Regions from separate parts of the Homo sapiens genome. Here region 1 is linked to region 2. A link means that fine-mapping ties the variant in region 2 to the plasma level of a protein whose gene starts in the linked region. Region 2 holds a variant in brackets. A gene starts in the other region. All regions are shown on their forward strands.

Evidence for each region. PIP is the posterior inclusion probability: the model's chance that the variant is causal. The UK Biobank Pharma Proteomics Project read protein levels with antibody pairs (Olink). The fine-mapping took linkage between variants from a reference panel, not from the people measured, so its PIPs are less certain.
Region 1: FLT3LG starts here. The variant in region 2 is fine-mapped to the plasma level of the FLT3LG protein (UK Biobank, PIP above 0.99).

The regions. Positions count from the first base shown.
Region 1 is chr19:49,470,502-49,474,469 of GRCh38, forward strand. FLT3LG (fms related receptor tyrosine kinase 3 ligand) reads left to right here and starts at 3,714. Exons shown (of 9, transcript NM_001459.4): 1 at 3,714-3,780. It overlaps ALDH16A1 (aldehyde dehydrogenase 16 family member A1), which reads left to right. Exons shown (of 17, transcript NM_153329.4): 17 at 1-549.
Region 2 is chr4:104,939,133-104,947,659 of GRCh38, forward strand. No RefSeq gene overlaps it. Among named protein-coding and RNA genes, the nearest start is that of TET2, 200 kb to the right of the region's middle. RefSeq lists an enhancer at 4,255-4,334. The variant ACT/A (reference allele first, on the strand shown) is at 4,240.

The sequences.
Region 1 (3,968 bases), not on the chromosome of region 2:
CACACCAAGGGGAGATGCACCCCACAGACACCTGGGACTTTCCCCTTCTGGTTCCTGTGTCTCCCAATAAACTCTCTGACCAACCCTAGCTGTGCTTCTGCGAGAAGAAAGGGTGTAGCAACTTCTGGCAGATATGAGGCTTTTTTCTTTTTTTTTTTTTTTTTTGAGACAACGTCTGGCTCTGTCACCCAGGCTGGAGCGCAGTGGCACAATCTCGGCCCACTGCAGCCTCGACCTCTGGGGCTCAAGGGATCCTCATGCCTCAGCCTCATATGTAGCTGGGGCCACAGACATGCACCACCACACCTGGCTCGAGGCCATTTTAGTTCTGAGGTTGAGCAGCTCAGGAGCCGGCTCCAGCACGGTGCTGTGTTTGTGAAACAGAGAAAGGGGACCCCCGAGGACCCCAGACAGGGCCTTAGGACTCTCATATCTTCTTGTCTTCTCCATCTGGTGGCTCTTGCTCTCTGGTTTTCTCTACCTTTTCATGGCCCCAGAATCCATATGCAGTAAAGGAACTCTCTGGAATAAAATTAAAGTCCTCCTATATGACTTTTGTCAATTTCCATGATGTAAATGCTCCCACCGTGCCGGATTTCAAGGTACAGGTGATTAAACAACTGCCTGCGAGATCCTGAATTGTTAACAGGTCAGCTCCCATGAGCCAATACGAGCCGCTTCAGCACACCACTGCCTTAGGATTCTGGTTGTGGGTGGGTTTTTTTGGTTTGTTTTTTGTTTTTTCGAGACAGAGTCTCTCTGTCGGCCAGGCTGGAGTGCAGCGGGGTGATCTCGGCTCACTGCAACCTCCGCCTCCCAGGTTCGAGCGATTCTCCTGCCTCGGCCTCCAGAGTAGCTAGAATTACAGGCTCGCGCCACCACACCCAGATAATTTTTTGTATTTTTAGTACAGACGGGGTTTCACCATCTTGGCCTGGCTGGTTTCAAACTCCTGACCTCAAGCGGTCCGCCTGTCTTGGTCTCCCCAAAGTGCTAAGATTACAGACTTAAGCCACTGCGCACGACTGTTGATTTTTAAATAAAGGATCTTGCTCTGTTTTTTAGGCTGTAATACAGTGGCGCAGTCACAGCTTACTGAACCCACCCTCGACCTGGGCTCAATCCTCCCACCTCGGCCGGGCGTGGTGGCTCACGCCTATAATCCCAGCACTTTGGGAGGCCGAGGCAGGTGGATCATGAGGTCAGGAGATCAAGACCATCCTGGCTAACACGGTGAAACCCCGTCTCTACTAAAAATACAAAAAAATTAGCTGGGCATGGTGGCGGGCGCCTGTAGTCCCAGCTACTTGGGAGGCTGAGGCAGAAGAATGGCGTGAACCCGGGAGGTGGAGCTTGCAGTGAGCCGAGATCGAGCCACTGCACTCCAGCCTGGGCGAAAGAGTGAGACTCCGTCTCAAAAAAAAAAAAAAAAAATCCTCCCACCTCAGCCTCCTGAGCAGCTGGGACCACAGGCACGCACCACCATGCCTGGCTAATTTTTTTTTTTTTAATAGGCAGAGTCTACCTACGTTGCTCAGGCTGGTCTTGAACTCCTGGCCTCAAGCGATCCTCTCGCCTCAGCCTTTCAAAGTGTGGGACTGCAGGCATCAGCCACCACACCTGAAGTAGAATTCTTTTTGATGTAAGAAACCCACTCTTACTAGTTTAGGATAAAAGGGAGTTTTCAGAGGCCAGGCTCGGTGACTCAGGCCTGTAATCCCAACACTTTGGGAGGCCGAAGTAGGCGGATCACCTGAGGTCAGGAGTTTGAGAGCAGCCTGGCCAACACAGTGAAACCCTGTCTGTACTAAAAATACAAAAATTAGCTGGGTGTGGTGGCGGGCACCTGTAATCCCAATTACTCAGGAGGCTGAGGCAGAAGAATCACTCGAACCCAGGAGGCAGAGGTTGCAGTGAGCTGAGAGCACACACTTCACTCTAGTCTGGGCAACAGAGCAAGGCTCCATCTCAAAGAAAAAAAAAATGAGAGTTTTCCGGACTAGGTGTGGCAGTTCACACCTGTAATCCCAGCACTTTGGGAGGCCGAGGTGGGTGGATCACTTGTCAGAAGTTTGAGACCAGCCTGGGCACCATGGTGAAATCCCGTCTCTACTAAAATTATAAAAATTAGCCAGGCGTGGTGGCGGCACCTGAAATCCCAGCTATCTGGGAGGCAGGAGAATTGCTTGAACCTGGGAGGCAGAGGGGGAGCTTGCAGTGAGCCAAGATCGTGCCACTGCACTCCAGCCTGGGCAACACAGCGAGACTCGGTCTCAAAAAAAAAAGAGAGAGAGAGAGGAGTCTTCTGGAAGGCTACAGAGATTCCCTAGAGGCAATAGGGCGATAGGGCAGGACACACATTGAGGGGCCCCAGGACTTGGTCAGGAAGGAGCTAGAGCAGGTCCTTTGTCCATGGGCCACATGAGCTATTGGGGCTTGTATCTCTGCCTCTCTGCTTCATTTAAATCTTTCTAGCCAGATGGAAGGTCTGACCATTGGGTGCGACAAGGCAGCTAACCCAGGCTGAACAGGAAGTGAGGCAGGCAGAGGGATCAGGGAAGGGAAATGGATGATGAAGGCCAGGACGGGCGAGGCTTTGCTGCAGTAACACATAACCCCCGAATCTGCGTGGGCCACAACCACAACATTAGTTTGTTGCTTACACTCCCTGTGCTCATCCGGGGCTGGCAGGATCCCTGTGCTCCTCCGAGTGGCACAGGAAACTTGGCTGATAGAGGCGCTCTCTCCATGCATCCTCCACCATCCACTCCCCGGTCCCTTAGACTTCCATTCAGAAGTGACACCTGTCACCTCCACCCTCATGTGACTGGCCAAAGTGAGTGTGGCCATGTCCGAGTTCCCCAGGATGGGACCTCGAATCCTCCTGCTGGGGGGGTGGGGGCAGCAGATGTTTCAGGACAGTCTGCCACGGATCAGATGGGTGAGCAAGAGATTCAGGATGGGCGTGATGGGTCACACCTGTAATCCCAGCATTTTGGGAGGCCGAGGCAGGCTGATCACCTGAGGTCAGGAGTTCGAGATCAGCCTGGCCAACATAGTGAAACCTCGTCTCTACTAAAAATACAAAAATTAGCCGGGCATGGTGGCACGCACCTGCAATTCCAGCTACTTGGGAGCCTGAGGCACAAGAATTGCTTAAGCCCAGGAGGCGGAGGTTGCCGTGAGCCGAGACTGTGCCACTGCACTCCAGCCTGGGCAACAGAGTGAGACCCCATCTAAAAAAAAAAAATGCTTCAGAGATTCAGAGATCCACAGATGTGGAAGAGAGCTTCTATTTTGTCTCATGTACCACCTCACCCCTCAGTTTGGAGTTGGAGAAGCCGAGGCTTAGAGAGGTCAAGGGGCTGGCCAAGCTCCCACAGTGATAAAGCTAGTGCTAGGGCGACACCTGCCAGGCCCAATGTGACAAGATGCATCCTGAGTCCTGTGTGCCAAGCCTTGGCGGGGCAAAGTTGGGGCCCGGAGGACGGTAAGACACAGCAACTGCGAGTTCCCAGAGACAGATCCGGGTTCCAGCCCCAGCTCACCATGCACTGGGCGTGCCACCCAGGGAGTCAGCCCCACTGCAGCCCCCGCTGCGGGGCGTCCGGAGAACGCGCCATCTGCGGCGTGAGCGGCCGCCTCTCACCACCAGGGGGCGCGCTCCGCCTGGGCCCAGATTCCACCCCTTGACTGTCTCCCCCCAAAAATTTCCTTTCACTTTCGGTCTCTGGCTGTCACCCGGCTTGGCCCCTTCCACACCCAACTGGGGCAAGCCTGGTGCGTGAGGAGACTTGGACTCTAGGTCCCCAAGGGGCGGAGCCAGGGTCCCCACTCCTGGGGCAGGGGGAGCAGAGGGTGGGGGGCTGGGTTCCCGGGTCCCTAACCTGGGGAGGGTTCTGGGGACCAGACGTCGAGGTTCTTAGAAGTGGAGATGAAGAGTTTTCACCGTAACTGGGGCAGACGCA
Region 2 (8,527 bases):
ACAATTCTGATTTATATTTTATCTCTTAAGTGCAATATTAGTTCTCCTCCTCTTCAGGTCTTGGTGTCTCATTAATTATCTTGAACAAAGCGCTTTTGGTGTATGCTGTATTTTTGCTGTACATTTTTTATTGAGATGTAAACTCTTATTGATTTGTAAGAGATTTTTGTATATTAAGAATAATAGGCCTCTTTGTATCACATACATGAAAAATGCTTTTTTCTACTGGTCATCTGTCATTCAACCTCACTTGGACTGTTTATCTGATATAGAAGTACATTTTATTTTATTTTATTTTATTTTATTTATTTTATTTTATTTTATTTTTTGAGACAGGAGTCTTACTCTGTCACCAGGCTGGAGTGCAGTTGCACATCTCAGCTCACTGCAACCTCCGCCTCCCGGGTTCAAGCAATTCCCCTGCCTCAGCCTCCAGAGTAGCTGGGACTACAGGCATGCACCACCACGCCCGGCTAATTTTATGTATTTTAGTAGACACAGGGCTTCACCATTTTGGCCAGGATGGTCTCGAGCCCCTGACCTTGTGAATAGATGTAATTTTTATATTTACGTTTGTCAATCTTGTTTTTTATTGTTTCAGTTTTTTTGTGTTATGCTTACAAAGGCCTTCCCACCCTAATATTACATTTAAAATCTAATTATATTTTCTGCTGTTAGTTTTACAGGCTTTTAAAACAAGTACAAATTATGTAAAGAACACTGTAGGAATGATGTGTTTCCCCAAATTATTACATATTGGATAAGCATTTATTCATTAATGCATTTTTCCCTACTGATTCAAAATGCTAACTTTATTATATACTAAATATCCCTATACATAGTTGGATCTGAGGTTAGATGTTTTGTTTCTCAACCATCTATTTCCTAGCCAGTTCCACATTGTTTTAACTTCAGTGTTTTTGTGGTACATCTTAACACCTGACAAGGCAAGGCTCATTCTTCATATTTTTGTTTTTCAGAATTCTTCTAGCTGTTCTTGCATGTTTATTCTTCAAAGTAAAATTTGAAATCATTTTATCAAGCTCCTCACCACCTTCCCACAGCAAATGAGAATTTTGATTGATATTACAATGCAAATAGAATAAATTCAAACAGAATTGACCTCTTTTAAAAAATAAAGCCTACTTTTTCTAAATTGTGTCTCCCCACTTAATCAAATGTTTTGTAATGTTCTCAAATCTTTTATTATCATATAAAATGTTATAATTTTACATATCTTGTTCATTTTACATTTCTTAAGACTATTTCTAGATATTAAATGTTGCTTAGTTATAAATGTAAATGGGATAATTTCCGTTTGTGTTTTCTATTCAAGAACGTGTTAGAAATCTACTGATTTTATTTATTTTACACCATCTACCTTAAGGAATACTCTTATTTTCTTAAGTCTGCAAGATCTATTTTTTAAAAAAATATTTTCAAAGAAAACTTGTTGATTTAAAATAGTTCAGGAAACAACTAAGTGATTGTATAATTTAAAATGGGAAAAGTGACTGCTGGTTTAAAATATAAATTTAAAATTTAGACACACACACACACACACACACACACACACACACCAACACAAATATATCACAAGAATCCTTGGATTGGGACATGTTTTCTTTTAAAATTTGAGTATTAGCAAAAGCAAGGAATTCAGTAGCTCTATGAACCACTCACTGTTTCCAGAGCTCTTCCACTGGAGCACCATTTTGTTTCCTTACAAAGAGAATGGACTTCCCTTAGATGGCTGCTCCAAGCAATCACTCTTTTTTAATGGTTCTCAAAAATAAAATGTTACCATTTAAAAATCAGAAAAGAAAAAACATCTCATCTGATGCTTGTATTACATTTTCTTTTACCGGATTCACAGCATATGATTAACAATGCACATAAACTTGGCTCTGTGATTTTGTGTTTAGATAATGATTGAAATCCATTAAACTATCCTTTTATGGTTGATATTCTGTCAGCTGAACATCCAGCAGATTCTTTTTATAGAAATATGATTTGATCTGCAATGTCCTGGAACATGTTTTCCCAGCTATTTGGCTTCAAGTTTATGGTAATTACCAGGCATTATCTCACAATTTCTACTGCTCCCAGGAACATTAAAATCCCACCACCCCTAGAAGCTTTTCTTGAGGATGAACCGTGGAAATCCTATGCCATTCCCTACAGGCTCTACTCAAGTGATAGGGTTTGTTTTTGTTTTCTTTTAACTGTTTCTTGTATTAAGCCTTATTTTTCATATGTCTTATCCCTCCAAATCACTTAAAATTTCCTCAGGAGGAATAAGGAAGAATTAACGTTTTGGGGCTCTCAGTACCAGCCTGGTCTCATTGCTTTGAATACATTTTTTCATGGCAAATATTAGTTATTATTGACATTTTATCTCCTGAGATACCTACTTCAGTGCCCAATGAATAGATGCTTGTTAGTTATATAACTGAACAGTCATCAGAGTATTTTTTTCTTAAATAATTTCCATCTAAGTGAAACAATAGCTCTTTTATTTTTACTTTAAGTTGCCAATGTAACAATAAAAGTTCATTGTGAATCAAGATATGTAAGGAATTTGGTGGCATTTTTTTTTTAGAATTACAAAACGTCAATAGCTTTTTATTAGTGGTATAGTTTCTCTATGAAACACCCTGAACTATAGTAGAGGCTTGCTGAAGATATAGAAGATTCATTTGTCCTTTCATAGCAGTTCCTTTGACCAATAGTTTCTGCTTAACATTAGTCACTCATTCTGCTTATTTTCTCACTGATTCTGCTAATGAGTCATAGATTATTTTGCATCTAAATCTCAGAAGTGTAGATCAAAGTCCTTCATGTGTAATGAAATGAAACTAATAACAGCAACCATTTATTGAGTGATTGTTATGTGTCAGGAACTGAGTGTCCTACTTGTGTAACTGCATTTAATTATCGTAACTACCCATTAGGTTGATGCTATTATCATCATCATTTTAAGGATGAGTAAACTAACTCTTAGAGAAGTAAAGTCAGACAATGCAAAGCCTAAACTTTTATCCATTTACATATACAATGAAACAACATAAGAATTGCAAGAGTGAAATATCTACTTTCCTAGTGAAGTTTATATGAAATTTGGGATACCTGTGGGGCAGCCATTATGATAGAAACAGAACTAGGAGAGTGGAAATGAGCTCTCTCTGGAAATACTTTCATAAACATCTCCTGAAACCCTACCACCAGGTTGGCAAATCATTGTTGTCTCCATCTTACATAGGGAATGGCTCAAAGTCACATAGTTAAGAAGTGGCAAAGACAGATCCATACTCAGGTCTTATAGATTCCAGGCCAAAACCCATCCATTCCCCACCACCACCATTTAACCCAGTTTCACAGGCGTGGTGGCAGCGATGGCAAAATTTGTCCTTCATAGTGTCACATCCATGGCTTCCTAAAGGCTCACATTACCCTCCTACAGACAGCATGGCTGTCTCCAACATGTCTCAACCAAAGTAACTACTGATCTCTATTGTGATGTAAAATAAAACATCCCTTATTAGTGCATTTTCTTTTGTGCCCTGTTTTTCATCCTGGATATCAACAAAAGGCCAATCAAACCAGTAAAAATGTTTAAAATTCTGTATATAACTTTTAGTCCATTTGATGCTCTATATACTTACAAGCACATTTTATAAAATTAGCTGCTTGAAAATCATGTAGATATATATATTGTTTCAACTTAATTATTCTGTGCAATATAGCACTCACCACAGCCAATTGTTTAAAGTATCCCAATGGCCTTCCAAACTCTCCTATATGCTCTACAAAGCATAGTTGTTCTGAGCCCCATCTGCACAGCACAGATAGCCGTGTTCCTCAAGTATTCTATGTGCTCCTCTCTATGCCCCAACCTCTCATGCAGTTAGACTGGGGACATGCAACCAGTCTGGGTCATTCAACTATGTATGTGTTAAATCATTAAACCTCACAATAAGGTAGGTATGCTGTGATTTCTTGGATTCTGTATTCGTCTGTGAGGCATCCATTCAAAACAGGGCCAGCTTTATTAAACTACATTTTCTTAATTTCTATAGTTCTTGATGCTCTAGAATCTGGTGGCCTTACAGACCCAGAAAGAGACTATCTTCCCTAGAGCTGGCTAATTCTGAGAGTCGGCGAAGGTCTTAGCTGAGAGCACAGCTCTCACGTACAAACCAACCAATCCTGAATCTACAGCCCCAAACTCCTTATCTA[ACT/A]CTCACACAACAAACCAATATTTCCCTTGCCCTAAATCTTCCCAGTTACCAGGCAACTAGAGATCACCCTTATAGCCCAAAGTCCTCTGGAATCATTCAAACTGGCCAATCCTAAACTGTTTACTCTGCTCTGCCTTCCTTTTCGCACAGAAACCTCAAGAAAGGCTCTGGCCTAGACTTGCCCCTTGTTCCTGTCTTCTGGCTCTTGACTGACACTGGTGCTTTCCCCCTGTGGTCCTGCATGGTGTGTGGTGACTACCTCATTGGGCCCTGTGAGTAGAATAAATTCCTTTCTAAGCTTTGTTCTTGTTTTCTCTTGCGGCTGCACTAACTTTACCATACCCCAGCCAAAATATACATTCTTAGAAGAGTAGGTACTATTTTTAACCTCATTTTAGAGATGATGAAACTAAAACACAGATATAATACTTTAAACAATTTATCCAAGATAACATGAGAAGCCAAGATTCTAACCCAGGCAAGCCAGCTCAAGATTGTAATAAAAACAGGGCTTTGTCTTCTCCATCCTCCACACATCTGGAATAGCACTTAGCTTTACGGTTTTTCTTTGCATTTAATTGATGCACTGCAAGACTACTTGTGTAGATTTTCAGTGTCGTCAAAAAGTAACAGCCACAGATTTTGGTAATTGAATTCGTGGTCAGCTCTGCTTTGCTAGCACAAATCCTAGTTTTATTTTAGATTTTACCTTATTTCTAGCCTTTAGATTTCTAGATACCTTTCTATTTCATTGTCTTCCTGGTCTTCTAGTCACCAACATCCCTTAGTATTCTTGCCCAGCTCTGACACAATTCTAATCCTATCTTTTCTGATGTATATAGAAGGAGAATGAGGGAGATTATTTATAAAGTATATTCACAAAGACAGGTAAAGGGACATTTGGGAGGATGAGAGCTGTCCTTTTTCTCTAGGCTACACCATATTTACACAATTGCTACACCAAGGCATCTGTATTTTTGCCATCATCATCAAAGCTCCCAGGATTTCTTCTACATGCAAGAAAGCTAATCTAGCATGATCTAATATAAAACCAAATATGACAGTCCAAAACTTTTGTAAAGGAGAAACTAGGGCAACAGTGATTAGCAGTGTATTAGGTTAGTTCCCCCAGAGAAACAAATCTCACTATGATCTGAAGATTTCTAAACAGCCCTTTGAGCTTCATGAGCAAACCTTATACTAACTCATTCTTACAAGGACCTTTTAGAAGACCAGAACACTTCTATAGAATCCTTAAACAAGAATTAATATGTTTTCCCCAGATTAACACCCAAGAGTCAGAAAAAAAATTTCTGGCTAACTGATGCATAATTGTTTATGGACATCAGCTTGCCTTGAGTATATTCAGCTTTAATGTTAATAGGAAAAAATGTATTTCTAATAAATATTTGCTGCCACAAGCAGAAAGATAAGAAAGTCTGTTAGGGAAAACTGCCAATGTCCTAGTATCATGTTTCCAAGAAGGGGCTTCTGGAATAACACTTCCTCTAGAGTCCTCACATATCTTCTGTGTTTTTTAAATGAGGAGGAGAGACACAGGTAATTGGGGAGATTAAAACAAGACACTGGAAGTATGGCTCAGCCCCTTTATAGTCACTAAGATATGTAGAGAATAGGGGTCTTTTATGAGGGCAACAGGCCCTGGTGACAAATATTTTGAGGCCTCCAAGAAAGGGTGAACTAACAATATCTTTACAGAGGTCTGTATTCAGATCCACACTTCTTCCAGACCACAAATCCCAATTGTTTGTAGTGAATTCCCCTCTTCTCTCATTGCCGCTGGCCTTCTCTTCTAGATCCTAAACTTAATGTAGTAAATATACGTGGGTCAAGGCTCAAACTTCCTTCTTGGAGCACCTTATCCCCCTGTCTCCTCTACTAGGGTTCAGTAGAGATGAGGCAGTAACGATCTAAGTTGGCCTTCTTTACGTTGTTCTGATGGATTATCCCAAAGCATAAGCTTAAGGAAAAACAGAAACAATTCAATTTTCCACTACTTAGGAAGCATCTAAGCTCACACACAAATCCAATGTTAATAGCTGATCATTTAATCCTGAACTATCTGACTCTTGACAATTTCTCAACCAGTTCCAAACTCAGAGAGGATTTACGGGGTCAGGGTAATGATCCTACACCTGTTCAAACCTCAACAAAGTCATGTCAAAAGTAATCTAGAAAGCTATGTATGTAGTTTTTAACACCTACCTAACAAGGTAGATGCTAAGGAAAAAAACAAAATTCATCACACCCAAGGTTCCCTACATCTTCCTACGTCCAAAGTTTATTTCCTAATAATATCAGGTAGAGTTATATGCCTTTACGCTGAATTTTACTTCATGGTTGAGCCCACAGAATCTTAGAACTGAAAATAACTTTATGGAAGACTGAATAGGTCACAAAGCTAGCTATTGACAGAGCTAAAACTGGAACTCTAGTCTTCACATTCCCAGCTGGGTTCTCCTTCCATTATAGGAGACTCCCTCCTAATGCTTTTTGGTAAGCTAATTCTCTGTGTGTCTTCATTCCTTTTTAACATATGAAAGGGATATTTTGTGGTAAAAATAAATAGTTTCATAACTATAAAGCATCAGAATTTGAAGGAAATTTAGAGAAAAGATGTCAGCCCTTCTGTCATTTTATTGATGAGGCTGTGGAGGGTCATAGATAACTCAGCTAGACTATAATACTCCTGGATCTTAGCTCATTACACTTTCCTTCACAAAAGAAAAAAATGCCCATTCTAATCATTGCAAGCCAAAACTAATGTTGTATTTCTTTCTGATTGACAAGTTGCAGAGAAAATAATAGGTATTTAACCTCCTAAATAAAAGCATAAGCAGTAGATTTCTATAAGTATCATGCAACTCTCTACAGAGACCATTTTATTGACTGATTTAAATTAGCTTCTTCCTAAAACTTACCCATCTACCTTTTTGGTAATATAATTGCCCATTCTAACATAGACAACATTTAAAACACCAACCCAATTTCTTCGGTGGAAAACAATTCAATGATGAATGCTGATGAAAACCATTAGTTGTGCAAAACCATACTAAGTTGTTTCAGTAACAAGACAGGGACTGTTTAATGAAGCATGTCTCAACAATAAATAACAACAATAAAGAGAAATTTACTGCTTTGTGCTATATTGGACATTCATCATATACCCCAGAGCACTGGAAATTAAAATGGAAAATATCTGTTAATATATAAGTAAAAAGATAGAAAATATTTAAATAAGGTCAAACTACATTTTGATTATAATTTTTTAAAACAGGCTTATTTCTAATACATATATGTAAACTGAATAAGTGCTACATTTATTATACATTCGTTTGGTGTTTCTGCTGAATAATAATGTGAACACTGAGACTCCTACATAGTTGTAACACTTTAGAAAGGATTTACTCCAGAGACCATGATTTATTATTTTCACAGAAAATGCTGGGATATATGAAGTACTGACCTCCCTAAGAACTGCATCAGTGTGTGTGTTCTAGGCTTGAGGGCTCTGATATGGTCTGAATGTTTGTCTCCCCACAAAATTTGTATGGCAAAATCCTAATCCCCAAGGTGATGACATTAGGAGGTGGGGCCTTTGGGAGGTAATTAGGTCATGGGGGCATTAGGAGGTGGGGCCTTTGGGAGGTAATTAGGTCATGGGGGCAAAGTCCTCATGAATGGGATGAATGCCTTTATTGATGGGACCTCGGAAAGCTAGCTAGCTCCTTTTCCACCATGGGAGGATACAGTGAGACGGTGCCTTCTATGAACGTGGAAATTGGCACTCACCAGACACCAATCTACCAATACTTTGATCTTGCCCTTCCCAGCCTCCAGGACATGAGAAATAAGATTCTGTTATTTATAATCTATACAATTTATGACATTTTTGTTACAGCAGCTCTAATAGACTAAGACTCCATCTTTAGAAGAAAACACTGTAAGAACTCATAATTTATAGTAAGACTGCCACAGAGGAACACGGGTCAATTTCTAAGAGAAGAATCCCAGATGGGACCAATCATTAATGCTCCTTCTTCCCCTCTAAAGTATAAGCCACTCACCTAGACAGAAAGTTCCTTGTGAGCAAGGATAGCATAGAGTTAACCATTGTGCACCCACCACAACCAGGACAAAGCTTTTCCTTTATATCTGCACCCTCTCTTCCCGCCCTCTGATCTTGTTTTTCTCTGATCAGCTTTCTGCTGACTCCCTTTTTCCACTTCTATTTTCTAGCTCTTCCAAATTTTCTCTTAAAATAA